2 separate regions of the Homo sapiens genome follow, and region 2 is linked to region 1. Evidence: fine-mapped expression QTL. A gene starts in region 1. The other region holds a variant in brackets. All regions are shown on one strand. Distances are from middle to middle.

What was found. PIP is the estimated chance that this variant, and not a neighbour inherited with it, causes the effect. A credible set is the group of variants that fine-mapping cannot tell apart.
Region 2: its variant is the best candidate, but not a certain one, in a credible set for the expression of COPZ1 in whole blood (TOPMed, PIP 0.52).

The regions. Positions count from the first base shown.
Region 1 is chr12:54,320,517-54,330,085 of GRCh38, reverse strand. It overlaps COPZ1 (coat protein complex I subunit zeta 1), which reads right to left and starts at 4,955. Exons shown (of 9, transcript NM_016057.3): 1 at 4,905-4,955. The coding sequence starts at 4,922. RefSeq lists enhancers at 1-204, 205-895.
Region 2 is chr12:54,340,841-54,350,409 of GRCh38, reverse strand. COPZ1 (coat protein complex I subunit zeta 1) reads right to left here. Exons shown (of 9, transcript NM_016057.3): 3 at 8,123-8,204; 4 at 7,094-7,185; 5 at 4,895-4,950; 6 at 2,566-2,643; 7 at 2,359-2,410; 8 at 752-790. It also overlaps the pseudogene RN7SL744P. Among named protein-coding and RNA genes, the nearest start is that of GPR84-AS1, 8.1 kb to the left of the region's middle. The variant C/T (reference allele first, on the strand shown) is at 3,980.

The sequences.
Region 1 (9,569 bases):
AATGGAGGGGGCCAGGCACCAGCAAGGACGCAGCTGGGAGAGGGGCACAGGGGACTGCCAGGAACGAGATGGGAGTGCTTTAGGGGCTTAATGTAATTGATACCTTTGCCCAGAGCAGGGGGAGGGGGGCATTTAGGCCAAGTACCTCTACTGTTAGGGCCAAAGGAATTTAACAAAAGCCCCATTAAGATGATTCAGGAAGCAAAGGCCAAGGAGCAACATCAACCTTTAAAGTCATTGACATATTCTGCATAGTTTCCTCCTCCATACATACTCATATCCTTGTGCACTTTGGATGGCCTGATTTTTTAATGAGGCTTAGAATTTAGGATTTGGTTATGGTTTTAAAATATTAAGGTAAGACAAAGTACAGAATTAGAAGTCTAGTCTGTAAAGCACTGGAGAAGCACTCTGAAAGTGAATCCAGAGAGGATTAGGAAAAATAAAACCTATGAACAAAGATTTAAAGATCTAAACCGATACAGAATTCAGTTTTGTTTGTTTTTTAAGACAGAGTTTCACTTTTTGCCCAGGCTGGAGTGCAATGGCCCTCGGCTCACTGCAACCTCCGCCTCCCAGGTTCAAGCGATTCTCCTGCCTCAGTCTCCCGTGTAGCTGGGGATTACAAGCGCATGCCACCACGCCCAGCTAATTTTTGTATTTTTAGCAGAGACGGGTTTCACCATGTTGGTCAGGCTGGTCTTGAACTCCTGACCTCAGGTGATCCACTCACCTCAGGATTACAGGTGTGAGCCACCGAGCCCGGCCCGAGTAATTCAGCTTTAAAGAAAAAAAGTAAAGCAGGAAGGAGGAAGGGGAAATCCTTATCTTTAAGATTCCACAGGTTATTAATGGAGAATGGTGATCTGCAGAGATCCTCTTCATTCACAACTCAAAAAGCGAGAACCAGCAGATACAGCAAGAGAGAAGAAGCCAAGTCCAAAGATGCAGGCTGAGATCACTATTATTAAGCATTGGGAACTAAAAGAGATGAAAGGGTCTCTTTCCTTAGAGCCTAAGGAGACCTGAGAGAGATTAGACAAATCTGCTTGAAAGCTAGAGCTGGATTACTTAATTCAAGAAAGAAATGTGACCATGTGACCCACTGTAAAGTACCTAAAAGAAGGGAACTTACTGTTATTTAGAAATTCCACAATCAATGCAAACTTTGATCAACAGTTCTTCTTGACCCCCTGTAGCTTACCTGTCCCTTTTTCTCGACATCCTGCAGCTATGTATGTACCTTGTAGAGTTAAGGACAGAAGAATATGCTTTGATCAGATTGTCCCTAACCGCATTACATAGGTTTCCCATAACAAAGAACCAGTGTGGTTTTAAAAGCAAAGTCCAGGGTTACCTGATCAAGTTAGCAGGGATCTGTGAATGCAGCCTATTAGGCATAGATTAAAGCAAAAGAATAAGGAAGAAGCAGGCTGAAACAGACTTCACTGAAGAAGCAGAGACAGAGAACTAAGGGAAGAGAAATGTGACAGAGAGACTTTCTTTTTCTTTAACTTTTCTGAGACAGAGCCTTGCTCTGTCACCCAGGCTGGAGTGCAGTGGCGCATCTCGGCTCACCGCGACCTCTGCCTCCCAGGTTCAAGTGATTCTCTTGCCTCAGCTTCCTGAGTAGCTGGGATTACAGGCGTGGCCACGCCCAGCTAAGTTTTGTATTTTTAGCAGAGACCGGGTTTCACCATGTTGGTCAGGCTGGTCTCCAACTCCTGACCTCGTGATCCGCCCACCTCGGCCTCCCAAAGTGCTGGATTTACAGGCGTGAGCCACCGTGCCCGGCCTTTTTTTTTTTTTTGAGATGGAGTCTAACACTGTCGCCTGGGCTGGAGTGCAGTGGCGCGATCTCGGCTCACTGCAACCTCTGCCTCCCTGGCTCAAGTGATTCTCCTGCCTCAGCCTCCTGAGTAGTTGGGACTATAGGCTCGTGCCACCACGCCCAGCTATTTTTTTTTGTATTTTTAGTAGAGACATGGTTTCACCATGTTGGCCAGGCTGGTTTCGAACTCCTGACCTCAAGTGATCCGCCCACCTCAGCCTCCCAAAGTGCTAGGATTACAGGCATGAGCCACTGCACTGCGCCCGACAGAGATACTTTCACATATAACTCCCCCAGCTTACCCACTACACACAGGCCCATTGTTAAAAGGGCTCCCCAATTATTATCTTCCTCATTCCTTTACCTTTAAGCAGGCTCCCTTCTAAACATATATAGGTAAGTCTAAAAACTTCCAAAAAAACCAATTCCCTAGAATCTATCCTAGTCTGCTAATTGGGTTTAGGGGGAGGTTTTTTATTCTTATTTTTTTAGAGACAGGGTCTGGCTTTGTCACCCATGCTGGAGTGCAGTGGCACAATCATAGCTCACTGCAGCCTCAAACTCCCAGGCTCAAGCGATCCTCCTGCCTCAGCCTCTTACAGTGCTGGGATTACAGGCATGAGCCACTGCACTCAACCTCTTGATTAAGAATACTTGCTGCCGGGCACGGTGGCTCACTCCTATAATCCTAGCACTTTGGGAGGCTGAGGCAGGTGGATTGCCTGAGCTCAAGAGTTCAAGACCAGCCTGGGCAACACAGTGAAACCGTCTCTACTAAAATACAAAAAAGTTAGCCAGGTGTGGCAGCACGTGCCTGTAGTCCCAGCTACTCGTGAGGCTGAGGCAGGAGAAATTGCTTCAACCCAGGAGGCAGAGGTTGCAGTGAGGTGAGATCACACCACTGCACTCCAGCCTGGGTGACACAGCGAGACTCTGTTTCCAAAAAAAAAAAAAAAAACTTGCTAACTGGCCGGGGTGCAGTGACTCACACCTGTAATCCCAGCACTTTGGGAGGCCAAGGCAGGCAGATCACTTGAGGTCAGGAGTTCAAGACTAGACCAGCCTGGCAAACATGGAGAAACCCTGTTTCTACTAAAAATACAAAAATTAGCTGGGCATGGTGGCGCGTGCCTGTAACCCCAGCTACTCAGGAAGCTGAGGCATGAGAATTGCTTGATTCTGGGAGGCGGAGGTTGCAGTGAGCCAAGATTGCACCACTGCACCCCAGCCTGGGCAACACAGCCAGACTCTATCTCAAAAAAAAAAAAAAAAAAAAAAAAAAAAAAAAAAAAAGAATACTTGTTAACTGCTTGGTACAGAAAATATTTAAAACTACTCAGATTTTAAGCTTTTTACCTATATTTGACCAACCGACATAAGGAATTAACTGTCTTTAACTGAAAGAGAGGAATTAAAACCTGTTATTCTTTTATCTGATGAGGATCTGAATGTGTATGCTTAGGAGATCTGAAGGAAAATAAAAGACAAGCTTCTTTGGAAAGAGGCCTAGAGTTCAAGCCAATTAAGGAAGAAGGCTGGGAGTTAAATTCCTACACTATACTACCTACCTACCTACACACACACACACACACACACACACACACACACACACACCCCTCCAAATCGCAAAATAGGGCACTTTTGAGAGAAATTCTCTGGTCCAGTTCTAAAAAGGGGTAACAGGTATTTTATTTGTTAGAACAAGCATAAAGCATCATATGGACAAGAGGGCTAATACAGCCCTTTAGCGACCACAATTCTCATGTAACCAGAGAGGGAGAAATTAGCATCCTAGATCATACAATAAGAATTCCTGGCCCGGCGCAGTGGCTCACGCCTGTAATCCCAGCACTTTGGGAGGCCGAGGCGGGTGGATTACGAGGTCAGGAGATCGAGACCATCCTGGCTAACACGGTGAAACTCCGTCTCTACTAAAAAATACAAAAAATTAGCCGGGAGTGGTGGCGAGCGCCTGTAGTCCCAGCCACTCCGGAGGCTGAGGCAGAAGAATGGCGTGAACCCGGGAGGCGGAGCTTGCAGTGAGCCGAGATCGTACCACTGCACTCCAGCCTGGGCGACAGAGTGAGACTCCGTCTCAAAAATAATAATAATAATAATAATAATAATAATTCCTGGCCAGGCGCGGTGGTTCAAGCCTGTAATCCTAGCACTTTGGGAGGCCGAGGCGGGCGGATCACTTGAGGTCAGGAGTTCGAAACCAGCCTGGCCAACATGGTGAAACCACGTCTCTACTAAAAATACAAAAAAAATAGCCGGGCGTGGTGGCACGCGCCTATAGTCCCAACTACGCGGGAGGCTGAGGCAAGAGAATAGCTTGAACCCGGGAGGTGGAGATTGCAGTGAGCCAAGATCGCGCCACGTGCGCACTCCAGCCTGGGTGACAGAGCAAGGCTCGGTCTCAAAAAAAAAAAAAAAAAAAAAGAATTCCTAAGGTCTAAATGGGTAGAGAAAAGGAGAACAGAATAAGGAGTCTAGAAAAAATATTCCACAATCCATGCTAACTTTATCAGGTATCCCAGAACTTTGATGGAATACTGATTATTTGACAAACCTATATAATAGGGATTAACAGGAAACCGAAGACAAAACAGTTTCCTGAAGGAATGTGGCAGGGAATCGGCAATGGAGAGTCAAACTTGGGAAACCATCAGGAGGAGTCTGTAACGACAAAACATCTGTATTCTTTTCTTACAATATGGGGCGAGTTTGGTGGTTTGGTAAATTAAAATCAGGGTATCATCCACAATGCTAAAAATAAGGGGCAACCTGAAGGGTCCTAATCCAGTACGCCTACAGGTCTGTGTATCCTAAGGAGTCCATGTGCTGCCTTCAACTTTCCACCGACTCTATGCCCTCTCCCCGGCAGGGCTTCCTACTCTAAACCAAGGCTTTAGCTCCTACACTAGGCCACACACTTATTCCAAAGGTCAGCAGAACGCTCAGTCCCCAAGAATTACCCGGAACTCTCTTTCCCCGTCTCCCACTCGGGCTGAACCCTGACTCCCGGCCCCTGTGGACACCACAGCATCTCTGCTGCCCCTCCAGCTCCTACCAAAATCAGCGCCTCCATCTTGCCCCGCAGCTGGTGCCGACGTGGAGCCGCAAAAGAAACGCCGCCGCTGATTGGCCATACGTTCCCATTAGGCCCCGCCTAGGATAAGGATCATTGGGTAAGGCTTGCTTTATTGGCCAATTATTGTACTAGCTTGCTTACCGGAAGCAAAGTGTCCAACCAGAAGGCTCAGGTGTTTGATTGTCAGCTTGAATACTCAATAAAACGCCAAAACCTCACGACTCATTGGGGCGGGAGGGTTAGTGGGGCGGGGTTGTTTCCATGGGGAACAGAAGAAGCGATTGTTAATTTTCAATTGGTAGGGCCGAGGACACGTGATATTGTCGGACTGATTTAGCGATTTTTAAACCGCACCCTCTTTAGGGGGCGCTGTGTCTCCTTAGCCTTTAACACTGGCGCTTTCTAACCGGAATCCTGCCCTAATCCCTATTTTCAGCGCCCGCATTAGGTCCATGATCTCTGTGGCTAGCCCTTCCCTCATGCTCGCTCAGGTCACTTCAGCATCCTCACAGAAAGTCTGCACAACCATAGAGTAGAGCCAAGAAAGGCCCAACATGTTAACTACATAAACCAAGGCTGCCAGGAGTTGATAGTCGCAATAACAATCTCCCTAAGGTGGAGTTCCAGGCTTTGCTGGGCCTGAGGAACATGAGAAGTCAGTTTGTAAAGGCCAACTTGAGCTCAACGTGAAATCGGCTTTGGAGATGGGGTTTGCGGGACAAACGGGGAAAGGGATGGGATTAGAATAAGAGAGGGGTTATAGGGAGTAAATTCTGGGGTTTTCCAATAGAAACAAGCCGTTGTGCCTGGGCGCGGTGGCTCAAGCCTGTAATCCCAGCACTTTGGGAGGCCGAGGCGAGCGGATCATCTGAGGTCGGGAGTTTGAAACCAACCTGACCAACATGGAGAAACCCCGTCTCTACTAAAAAAAAAAAATACAGGCCGAGCGTGATGGCTCACACCTGTAATCCCAGTACTTTGGGAGGCCGAGGCGGGCGGATCACGAGATCAGGAGATCAAGACCATCCTGACTAACATAGTGAAACCCCGTCTCTACTAAAAATACAAAAAATTAGCCGGGCGTGGGTGGCGGGCGCCTGTAGTCCCTGCTACTCTGGAGGCTGAGGCAGGACAATGGCGTGAACCCAGGAGGCGGAGTTTGCAGTGAGCTGAGATCGCGCCACTGCACTCCAACCTGGGTGACAGAGCGAGACTCCGTCTCAAAAAATATACATATATACAAAATTAGCCGGGCGTGGTGGAACATGCCTGTAATCCCAGCTACTCGGGAGGCTGAACCAGGAGACTCACTTGAACCTGGGAGGCGGAGGTTGAGGTGAGGCGAGATCTCGTCATTGCACTCCAGCCTGGGCAACAAGAGCGAAATTCCATCTCAAAAAAAAAAGAAAAGAAAAGAAAAGGAGAAGAGAAGAGAAAAGAAAAGGAGAAAGAAAGAAAAGAAAGAAAGAAAGGAAGGAAGGAAGGAAGGAAGGAAAGAAAGAAAGAAAGAAAGAAAGAAAGAAAGAAAGAAAGAAAGAGAAGGAAAGAAAGGAGAGGAAAGAAATGAGGCGTTGCAAAATGAGAAAAGAGAAGTTTACTGAATGCAAGAATTTCACAATAGGGAATGATTTTGATGAAGCTTGGCTTTCCCCTATCCCTTGGTTTCCTGATCCCTGACTCCTCTTAGGGCAGGGACACCTATTACCTTAATTATCCTAAAGGGATTTTTTCCCTCATCTCTGAAAATTATATCCTTAGGAGCCCTCCAAGAAGAGATTCCAAACTTACCCAGGAATTTTTCTTTTTTGAGACGGAGTCTCGCTCTGTCCCCCAGGCTGGAGTGCAGTGGCTCAATCTCGGCTCACTGCAAGCTCCGCCTCCCGGGTTCACGCCATTCTCCTGCCTCAGCCTCCAGAGTAGCTGGGACCACAGGCGCCCACCACCACGCCTGGCTGATTTTTTGTATTTTTAGTAGAGACGGGGTTTCACCGTGTTAGCCAGGATGGTCTCCATCTCCTGACCTCGTGATCCGCCCGCCTCGGCCTCCCAGAGTGCTGGGATTACAGGCGTGAGCCACTGCTGCACCCGGCCTTTTTTTTTTTTTTTTTTTTTTTAAGACGGAGTCTCTCTCTGTCGCCAGGCTGGAGTGCAGTGGTGTGATTTTGGCTCACTGTAACCTCCGCCTCCCGGTTGCAAGCGATTCTCCCTGCCACCTCAGCCTCCCTTGTAGCTGGGATTACAGGCGCCTGCCACCCCTGGCTAATTTTTGTACTTTTAGTAGAGACGGGGTTTCGCCATACTGGCCAGGCTGGTCTCGAACTCCGGACCTCAGATGATCCACCCGCCTTGGCCTCCCAAAGTGCTGGGATTACAGGCGTGAGCCACCGGGCCCAGCCACCCAGGAATTTTTCTAATAGTCGGAGTAGAATCAAGGAAACATAAAACAATACAATACAAGGGCGCTGTGGCATGTGCCTGTAGTACCAATTACCCCAGGGGCTGAGGCAGGAGGATGCTTGAGCCCAAGAGTTCGAGGCCGTAGTGCGCAGTGATTGTGCCTGGGAATAGCCACTGCATTCCAGCCTCGACAACACAGGGAGACCCAGTCTGTATATAAAAATAAGATAAAATAAAAAATTGAACAATACAATGCAAATTATAGACCTACAGTGTACTCTGACAGAAGGTGAATTTCTGGTGGAATACCAGGTGTTAAGCCTTATATCTGGAAGAAGTGAAGGCTTGTCCTTTTATTCCTCAAGGAGAGTTGTTCACACATTTACTGTGCCTGGCATCACAGTCAGTGGGTTGTCATTGGCTTTGCAGCTTAAAGGTAATACTAACATTTACTGCCCACTTATTATGTGCCAGGCACGGTGCTAAATCTTTAAATACATTATTGAATACATTTTTTAAAATCCTTATGAAGTAGCTGGGCATGGTGGCTCATGCCTGTAATCCCAAAACTTTGGGAGGCTGAGGCAGGCAGATCACCTGAGGCCGGGAGTTCGAGACCAGACTAGCCAACATGGTGAAACCCCGTCTCTACTAAAAATACAAAGATTAGCTAGGTGTGGTGGCAGGTGCCTGTAATCCCAACTACTCCGGAGGCTAAGGCAGGAGAATCTCTTGAACCCGGGAGGTGGAGGTTGCAATGAGCGAGATCCTGCCATTGCACTCCAGCATGGGCAACAAGAGCAAAACTCTGTCTCAAAAAAAAAAAAAAAAAAAATTCCTGGCCGGGTGCGGTGGCTCACACCTGCAATCTCAGCACTTTGGGAGACCGAGGCGGGTGGATCACGAGGTCAGGAGTTTAAGACCAGCCTGGCCAAGATGGTGAAACCCCGTCTCTACTAAAAATACAAAAAATTAGCCGGGCGCGGTGGCAGGCACCTGAAATCCCAGCTACTTGGTAGGCTGAGGCAGGAGAATCGCTTGAACTCAGAGGGCAGAGGTTGCAGTAGCCGACATTGCATGCTACACTCCAGCCTGGGTGACAGAGTGAGACTCCGTCTCAAAAAAAACAAATAAAATAAAAAATCCTTACGAAGTAGATGATTATTAAACCCATTTTACAGATGAGCAACATGGAGTTTAGAGCAGTTAAATAATTTACTTAAGGCTACAGAACTGTTTTAGCAGCCATACGTTTGAGCACAGGAGACTCTAAACCATGTTCTTACCCACAGTCCACTCCTCTAGTTTGTTGTACTGCCTCTCTTGCATCCCAGTCCTACCTCAAGGACTCTACCTCAGTGCCAGATATTCTACAAGGACCATAAGGAGGAAAAAGTGTGGTATGGTTGGTTCATGGGGATGGTTGGCTCCTTTTTCTGTGTAGTAACTGACAAATTTTAAGTCAGATATTGTTGCAGAAGATCGCTTGATTCTTAGCTCTCCAGCCTGTTGGGGTAATTGTGCTGTGGGAGGAAGACAATTGACTGAATTAGAGACATTAGTTATTGTTGTGACTTTGCTTTAATCAGTGAGAGAACTCTGCAAGTCTCTGTACCCTCTCTGGATGGACTATAGCTGTCACTTCTGGAAAGGGGAGAGGTTCAGACCAGAGCTTTCTAGGGCCCTAGCTAACTTTTTTTTTTTTGGAGATGGAGTCTCGCTCTTGTTGCCCAGGCTGGAGTGCAATGGCACACTGTCGGCTCACCGCAACCTCTGCTTCCCAGGGTTCAAGTGATTCTCCTGCCTCAGCCTCCCGAGTAGCTGGGATTACAGGCTTGTGCCACCAGGCCCAGCTAATTTTGTATTTTTTTAGTAGAGACGGGGTTTCTCCATGTTGGTCAGGCTGGTCTCGAACTCCCAACCTCAGGTTATCTGGCTGCCTCGGCCTCCCAAAGTGCTGGGATTACAGGCGTGAGCCACCACACCCGGCCAGGCCCTAACTTTAAAATTCTATGATTGGCCAGGCGCCATGGCTCATGACTGTAATCACAGGACTTGGGAGGCCAAGACGGTGGATGGCTTGAGGCCAGAAGTTCGAGACCAGCCTGGACAAAATAGTGAGACCCCCATCTCTACAAAAAAATAAAAATAGACCAGGCACGGTGGCTCACTTTGGGAGGCCGAGGTGGGTGGATCACGAGGTCAGGAGTTCAAGAACAGCTTGGCAAAGATGGTGAAACCCTGTCT
Region 2 (9,569 bases), 20 kb before region 1:
ATCTCCTTCCCCTCACTTGTCTTCCCTGTCCTTAGAAGAATGGAGAATAGAAAATCCCCAAGGGTAAAGAGATGGGAAGAAGCTCTCTAAGGCCCTAGCAGATTGTTTGGAAAATTCCAAAAAAATTCAAACCCACTGAGGGGATGAAGAGAGAAGAGGTATACCTGGTATAAAAGAAAAAAAAAAAGGGAGTTACTGGACATATGTTAAAAGGGGCGGCGGGCAGGGGGCGGGTAACAAATCCAGATGGACTTCTTGGTGAGAATTCCAAGTGGGTAGAAAACGGAACCCCTCCCTTCCCCCTACATCAGGTAGACAATCTATCTGCAGTCAAGGTAGCAAGATGGATCTGCAAAACCTGCATATTCTAGAATATGCATTTCCAGCTTAGCCCTCAATTGAATAATAAGAGAAAGAGAGTGTGTGTGCACAAATGCACACAGACCATCTGCTTAAGGCAAGCCTCTGCTGGGGAATAAATCACTGAATGAGGCATCAGGCAGGCAGGGAGGGTTTGAAGGGTACAGAGCAAGGCTGACAGCCACTGCTCACAGGTAACTGAGAAAGGAGTTGGAAGTAGGGGTAGGGAGTGGCTGGCTGTATGAGTCCCAGTTCTCTGGAATAAGAGGGAGCCAAGGAAGATGTGTCTTGAGTCTCTAGTTTCACTCAGATTTGAGAGGTATGGGTGGAATGCTGTTCTAGCCTCTTTAGTGACCCAGTCCATCTGGAAAGGAAGAAGGGAGAGTCATACCTGAGACACGGTCTGCTCCGTAAGGGGGACATCTTCACCCTATGGCACAGAGATACAAGCATTTAGTGTGGGAGAAAGCTGGAGTAAGACCTGATTGGAGTCTGGTATTAGAGAAGAAAAAAGTGATCCTTTAAACTGAAACAAAGGGCAGATGCACTGAACTTCTCAGTCCCTTCTAGGGACTAGTACAGCTACAATTTTACTTGGCCAGAGGGACTATGAACAAAAAAGGGTCATTTCATCCAGCTTCCATTTTAAGGCAGGAGGACTTCTTAAAAGATTTAACTCCATTCAGAGTAACCAGCAGGTTATCTGATCCTCAACTCCCTTAACGTGGGGGTGGAGGACCTGATTCCCTAGTCAGAAAAGGCCTTTTCTGAATATCAGTATCACTAGGGAAAGGATGAGGGGGAGCCAGGAGTGGTTTAATGGATCCCGCAAAGCCTGATGGGTAACGACAGCATGTTAATTTGAAGAAATAAACTGCTGCAACAGCAGCCTAAGAAGACAAAGCGGGGAGTTGATGGGGGGGACCCTCTCTCTTGCCACACAGAGACATATGTTAGAGGAGAAGATTAAACTATGCAAATGGAGCCCACAGCAGTTAAGAGAGATTTCCCATTACCAAGCACTGTCAGCCTTCACTCTGTGGAGGTCAGAGCCAGGACATTCTGTGAATGGGGAGATTTGCTTTGCTCAGACATCTTTGCACCCGTATAATTTGTTGGTGGGCTCTCTCTGCATCCACCATTATCTCCTCAGCTGACCTGGGGCCTTCTATGGTTAACTCAGAGGCCCCTTTCTGATATCACCAGCACCAAAGAGGACTGAGGTTCTGGCAAATAAGTACTTCCTAATGGAGAGGTACCATCCTCAGTTATGTAACACTTTATTATTATTATTTTATTTATTTATTTTTTTTGAGACAGAGTCTCACTCTGTCGCCCAGGCTGGAGTGCAGTGGTGCAATCTCGGCTCACTGCAACCTCCACCTCCCGGGCTCAAGCAATTCTCCTGCCTTAGCCTCCTGAGTAGCTGGGATCACAGGCACGCACCACCATGCCCAGCTAATTTTTGTGTCTTTAGTAGAGACAGGGTTTCACCATGTTGGTCAGGCTGGTCTCGAACTCCTGACCTTGTGATCCGCCAGCCTCGGCTTCCCAAAGTGCTGGGATTACAGGTGTGAGCCACCACGCTCAGTCCTATGTAACACTTTAAAAGACAAAACAGACACTCCTCTGCCTCAGATGACTGGATCCATCTCCAAGAAGGGAATAAGCCAACTTCAAGTTGCTTTATAATTTCAAAACCATAAATATTAAAGTTTATTTTATCATTTATTAAATAAGTATGTATTAAATGTCCACTTTGTGCAAAGACTGTATGAGATGTTAGGCACCATATTAGGGGTAGAAATAAGTTATTTCTGCTTCTTTCTTTGGGACAATAAGAAGAGAAGGGAAGAGAAAGGCTGAATGTATTTGAAAGAAAAAGAGAAGGTTGTATGTATCCTATGAGCCCCAACTACTGGACACATCCAGCAGGTCTGGCTCTGGAGGGTGTTTGTGAATAGATGCGGGGATGCAAAGAAACACATTCTTGCTTACCCTTAATGCCACCCGGTGTACCACCTGCTGGGGATCACTCTCTAGGATCACCCTGCAAAAACAAAGAAGAGATCATTGTTCACTCTGTCCCGAAGGCCCAACTCACTGTCGGGGAACAGGACCTCTGGCCACTGAGCCTGCTTGACTTAGGACAGGGGCAGTTATCCCGCCACCTCACCCAAGATCAAGGCAGGTCAGAGAACTTACCCTCCATCTACAATTTCATCCACAGCCAAGAACAGCCCCTCCATGTTCTCCAGCAGTGCTCGCTTTTCTACATTTTTCCTGAGTCCCCAAGAGAAGAGAAGAGAATAACCAACTTGTATGTGAAAGAAATCCTAGGACCTTGTCTCAATTGAGGAACCTAAACTAGACCAATAAACATCTCCACCAACCACACAAAGAAGTAAATAAGGTGAAGAACTTTTTAGCTAGTTCACTCAAAACCCCTTTCTACTCGTTTGCTGAATAAGGAATGTATGGAAAGAGATTCAAATAACACAGTCAATTTCTGACTATTCAGGGGTTGATTATCCACGCTATTATTTCTTTCCTACCTGCCATGATGCTGCTCATAACATTGCTCATAAACACTGACATCAGTGGGTGGAAAAAAACAATATAAACAGAGCTAAGACTCAGTCTGGAGGTGGCCGGAGGTGAGAGGGGTTCAATGCAAACCTTATTTGTACTCAAGCTCTGACAAACCTCCTGAGACATTCTCTGTTCCCTCTTCTCCCTATCCCTTACCAGCTCTGCTCAGGCCCTGAAAAGAAGCCCAAAGAGGGGGCAGGGTCTGCATACACCAGCCTCAGATCCGTTGGTTGGTGCATGTGGCCTGTCACATCTGTCAGTTTGAGTCTTTCACTAGATTACCCGAATGAATTACTATTCATTCACCTGGATAAGAAATAAATCATCCCCTTCCTGAGGAAATCTGAGCCATTCACCCTGCTGATTTTGCAGGGCTGAGAGTGCCTGCTGTTCTGGTCTGGATGGCTGTCTGTACTGGGTTCACTTGGGAGCTGCTGGGGGAATGAAGTTCAGAGCCCTGGATGTTTTCAGGAAAAGTAACTTATATCTCTTCTATTACCCATCTACACGGGTAACAGAGAACAGAGGGCTAGTGGGAAGGTGGAAAGGGAGGAGAGGGTAAATGGCAGAAGCTTCCTGTTTTTTGTTTTGTTTTGTTTTTTGAGACAGGGTCTTGCTATGTCACCTAGGCTGGAGTGCAGTAGCATGATCACAGCTCACTGCAGCCTCAACCTCCTGGGCTCAAGCAATCTTCCTACCTCAGCCTCCCAAGTAGCTGAGACTACAGGTATGCACCACCACACCTGGCTAATTTTTTTATTTTTTGCAGAGACAGGGTCTCACTGTGTTGCCCAAGCTTGTCTTGAACTCGACTCATGCAGTCCTCCTGCCTGGGTGCTTCCTGTTCTACAGAAGGGAAAAAACAAGGACTAGAAGTCAAAAAAAAACTGGTCTAAGTGGCTCATGCCTATAATCCCAGCACTTTGGGAGGCCAAGGTAGGTGGATCATTTGAGGTCAGGAGTTCAAGACCAGCCTGGCCAACATGGTAAAACCCTGTCTCCACTAAAAATACAAAAATTAGCCAGG[C/T]GTGGTGGCACGTGCCTATAATTGCAGCTACTCTACTCGGGAGGCTGAGGCAGGAGAATCGCTTGAACCTGGGAGGCAGAGGTTGCAGTGAGCCGAGATCACGCCACTGCACTCCAGCCTGGGTGACAGAGTGAGACTCCATCTCAAAAAAAAAAAAAAAGAAAAAAAAATTGGGAGTGTTGCTTCCATTCCTGAAGTACTGAATGACATTTCATCTGGGACACTTCCTTATGCTTGGCCTTTCCCTACTTCTAATGTCAAGAATGAAGCCCAGGAAAGCACCTTGAGGATGCTCAGATCTGACAGGACCACAGGGGATTACAAGAGTAAACACAGAGGTAAAGATTCGGCTCCCTCCCAGTCCCCTTACTTAGTAAGAGAATTATTCTATGGGAGGGACATACTCTCCATCCAGTCCTCCCCAGTAGCATGAATTACTGTGAATTAATAAACCCAACTTTTTTTTTTTTTTTTGAGACAGAGTCTCACTCTGTCGCCAAGGCTGGAGTGCAGTGGCGCGATCTCGGCTCACTGCAAGCTCCGCCTCCCAGGTTCATGCCATTCGCCTGCCTCAGCCTCCCAAGCACCTGGGACTACAGGCGCCCGCTACCATGCCCGGCTAATTTTTTGTATTTTTAGTGGAGACAGGGTTTCCCCATGTTAACCAGGATGGTCTCAATCTCCTGACCTCATGATCCGCCCGCCTTGGCCTCCCAAAGTACTGGGATTACGAACGTGAGCCACTGAGCCCGGCAAAACCCAACTTCTAAAACTAAATCAACTCCCTGGAGCCTTTGCCAATCCCCTACAATCCCTGGGCCTGAAGAATGGTTACTTTATCTCCCAAAAAGAAATCAACAATGCCCTGCTCTTTCCATCATAACTTGAGGGGAAAAAAAAGAATGTCCTGCTCACCTCAGCATCTGGCTCAATGAGTCGAAGAGACAGTTCAGAACAGCCATAAGCATCAGCTGTTGGGAAACAGAGGAGGCAGAAGGATAAGGTTCAAGGCCCTGAAAGCTGCTACCTAAAAACAAAACCTCCTAATTCATTAAACATCAAAAGACACAGGCTTTCACAAAGGACCAAAAACATAAAGTGGAAGTGAGAGCACAACAGGAAAAGGATCTGTGATTTCTCACAGAAATAAATTCTGCTACATGATTCCACAATTCAACATCTTTTAGCCAAAAGTTTAAACAGAACTTCCCTGTCACAGTCCTCTACAATGTCTTCACCAACTGTATATGTGTTACCTGATGTCTTAGGTAGAGAAATTACTAACCAAGCAATAGCTGAGGTCAGAGGAAGGCTTCAGAGTTAGTGTAAAAAGCATGGACTTTAATTGGCTGGGCACAGTGGGTCACACCTGTAACGTCTAGACCCTGTCTAGACTCTGACTCTATCCCAGCACTTTCGGAGGCTGCAGCAGGCCGATTGCTTGAGCTCAGGAGTTGAGACCAGCCTGGGCAACATGGCAAAACCCTGTCTACAAACAATACAAAAAAAAATTAGCCAGGCATGGTGGTGGGCACCTGCAGTCCCAGCTACTTGGGAGGCTAAGGTGGTAGAATCACTTGAGCCTGGGAGCCAGAGGTTGCAGTGAGCCAAGATCGCACCACTGCAGTCCAGCCTGGGAGACAGAACAAGACCCTGTCTCAAATTTTTTTTTTTTTTTTGAGAGTCTGGCTCTGTCACCCAGGCTGGAGTGCAATGGCGCAATCTCAGCTCACTGCAACCTCCACCTCCCAGGTTCAAGCAATTCTCTTGCCTCAGCCTCCCAAGTAGCTGGGATTACAGGCGCCCACCACCACGCCCAGCTAATTTTTGTTGTTGTTGTTGTTTGTTTGTTTGAGACGGAGTCTCGCTCTGTTGCCCAGGCTGGAATGCAGTGGTATGATCTCGGCTCACTGCAACCTCCGCCTCCCAGGTTCATGCCATTCTCCTGCCTCAACCTCCCGAGTAGCTGGGACTACAGGTGCCCGCACCACGCCCAGCTAATTTTTTGCATTTTTAGTAGACATGGGGTTTCACTGTGTTAGCCAGGATGGTCTCAATCTCCTGACTTCGTGATCCGCCTGCCTCGGCCTCCCAAAGTGCTGGGATTACAGGTGTGAGCCACCATGCCTGGCCTGTATTTTTAGTAGAGATGGGATTTCGCCATGTTGGCCAGCCTGGTCGCGAACTCCTGACCTCAAGTGATCCGCCCACCTTGGCCTCCCAAAGTGCTGGGATTACAGGTGTGAGCCACCACGTTCGGCCTATGTCTCAAAATTTTTTAAAAAGCATGGACTTTAAGTCAGACAGATATGGGTTGGAATCCAAGCTGAGCCATTTTCTACATGTGTGACCCTGAGAAAGTTACTAGGTTGAACCACATCAGATAACTGCCACTTTTGTACTTTTCTCAATGGTCACATACAAGTAATTTCATATAGTTCTTCATGGTTTGGTTTCCTCATTTGTAAAACAAAGGCACCAATGCCTACAACTCATAGAAGTGCTATGAGGTTTAAATAACAATATACTTTACAAAGCACTTATACCAATAATAAGAGCTCAGTAAGAGTTGACTTTCTCAAACTTTCACTTTTGCCTCAAATTATCTGGGGGCTTATTTTTATTTATCTATTCTCCTAGAAGTTGCTATCTGAGGCAAACAGCTTTTCCTGCATATAGGAAGCAGGTTAGGACTATACCCAAGGTCTTCTCCAGTGATCCATTCAGAATGTATGGTTTCAACATGACCCAGGTTGTTAGCTAATTGGCTCAAACTCAGTCAGGTATGGACCCTTCATAGAAGAAGCAAGTATCCCCCTGCAGTCTTGACCATACCTCAGAAATCCATCTTAAAAAACACTACTCAGGGAAAGGTATTAAAACATATATGATGTTTCCTAATGGATGCAAAAGATTAATCTAGGAAAACTTCCTTTCTAGGCGATTCATTTGCCGGGCCATGTTTGTGAGGCTGGTGGGATCTCTGACAACTTCATTAGCTTGGTCAGAAGCCAGAGGAACACGGCTCTATTAGGGCCCCAAACCAGTGGCTATGTACTGCCTGTGGTTTAGAAAGTAGGATCAGAAATAGCAAAGAGGGGTGGGGATTCTCACCTCATTTTCATAGGAGCTGCCAATCACATAGAAATAGAGATCTATACTGCTTTTGTATACCACTGTCAGGCCTTCCAAGAGGGCAATTTCACCTGGTGGGGGAAAAAAAGTAAAAATAGTGGGTGGCTTGAGATAAGGAAGTAGGAAAGAAGGAGTTACCAGCCAGGCGCAGTGGCTCATGCCTGTAATCCCAGCACCTTGGGAAGCCGAGCCTGGCGGATCACCTAAGGTCAGGAGTTCAAGACCAGCCTGGCCAACACAGTGAAACCCCGTCTCTACTAAAAATACAAAAATTAGCCGGGCGTGGTGGTGTGCACCTGTAATCCCTGCTACTCAGGAGGGTGAGATGGGAGAACCACTTGAACCTGGGAGGCGGAGGTTGCAGGGAGCCGAGATCTCGCCACTGTACTCCAGCCTGGGTGACAGAGAGAGACTCTGTCTCAAAAAAAAAAAAAAAAAAAAAGAAGGCGTTACCATGAATTCCTAGTATCCAGCTCTTTTGGGCTAAGGTGAGGCCGCCTGTAATGACTTCCAAAGCCAGAAGATGATCTGCACTTTTTGGGTGGTGGCAGGAGAAGAGAAGTATGAACTTGGGGGAGTCTAAATGTATCTTCTGTAACCACCATCCTCTGTTCCTGCCCACTATACCTATTTCCCTACTTGTATATGAGACAGGATACTAGTCGATCCTTCGGAGGTGAAAATGCAGAGCGGTCACCTTTACAGACTTCCATTTACCTGCCCTAATGGATGCGGTACAATAAGCAGAGCTGCAATTAAATTTGTCAAGTGAGGCTCATAAATCCAGGGACTAGACAGGTAGCTAACAGCCAACCTTCCAGCATGGTATTCCCGCGTGAGGTACACTCACCTCCCCATTACATTCTGAAGAGTTTATTATACAAGGGGAAGAAGGAAAAAAAAAGAAAAAGGCAGAGTCATTTCATCCTTTCTCTGCAGCCCTGTTACCACCCCCTTTCCACCATGGTTCCCCCCAGCACGGGTAGTAGTGAAAGGAAAATGACCTACTGTCAGTCCGATGGGTCTTGTTGAAAATGTTCTTCTCAAAGGCCTTTTGCTCCTTGACACTGGGGTAGGTGTCGTCATAGTACTGGTCAGAGGGAAAGAAGACAGGGTTGGGTCACTAGAGCTGGAAGCCAGAATGATTAGTGACTATGTTTTGCCCTGGGATCTTGGATTTCTCTCCTTCAAGGCATGGGGCAAGGGAGAAATACTGACATGGAAAAGGAAGGATTGTAGAGGCAGAGAATGGGCAGTGAGTAATCCAAGAAAAATAAATAAAAGACCCTGCCATAAGCAACCCCACCTCACATTTCCAAGACTGTCTGAAGGCAGAAGCCTACCAGCCCTACAGTGAGGCTCTGCAGCTGTCTGCAATCTAGACCTCTCCTAAAACCATTCTCATCAAGTGTTTCCTAGGAGCTACCCCATGTCAGGAAGCAGTGCCAGAGAACACAAAAAACACTAGAAGCACAGAACACTTCCATAGACCCTCACTCACTGTATGAAGCTGAGGAATGGGGAAAGGCTACAAAAACCTCCTCCAAAGAAAGGCAAACCCTGCCCTATGATCTATCTTAGCTTTCTTTTCTGCAAGCTGAAAGAAGCATCCAGCATACCACTGAGCCCATTCCCAGGCTCTCCCTGGCAAAGGGGGCGGAGATGCAGGCTGCTAAATCGCTAGCTCTTTAGGGGCTAATCCGTCGCAGTCAGCTGAAGACCCATGACAGGTCTGGCATTTAGTAACTGGATAACTGTTTCAAAAGGTGTCCTGCATAGTTACATCCAATTACAGGGAGGAACAGCTGGTGAATTCTAAACTAATCTCTACCTGCTGATTGATTTATGCTACGCTCGCCCGGAGTTAATACACCAGGGACAGAAGAAATTTCTACAGGAGGGGGAGAATATGGAGGGAGAGAGGGTGTCCTTTCTTCTTTCTTCCAACAGATCTAAAGTTGGAAACATCACTCTGGGAAAGTCAGGAGGTAACAAGCTTGATGGTGACTATAAACCTAGGAATGGAAACCTGGAACTGCAAGACAATTCTCTGGAAAAACCCAGGCAGGGTGACATGGTATGAGGGAAGGGGACAGGAATGATGGACATGGGCGGACTGCCTCTTAGCATCTACATACTGCTTTGTTAGGAACCAAAGTTTCAAAGCTTTTCCCTGATCTGATGCTGACAACAAAGGAGGTCAAAGTCTGAGGACAGCAAGCAGGGCAGCAGTACAACTAAGGGACAAAAGAAAACAGGTTTTATCTGGAGTAGGCAAGATAAGATGGAAGAATTCAGGCCGGGTGTGGTGGCTCACACCTGTAATCCCAACACTTTGGGAGGCCAAGGCGGGCGAATCATGAGGTCAGGAGTTTGAGACCAGTCTGGCCAACCTGCTGAAACCCTGTCTCTACTAAAGATACAAAAAATTAGCCGGGGGTGGTAGCGCGTGCCT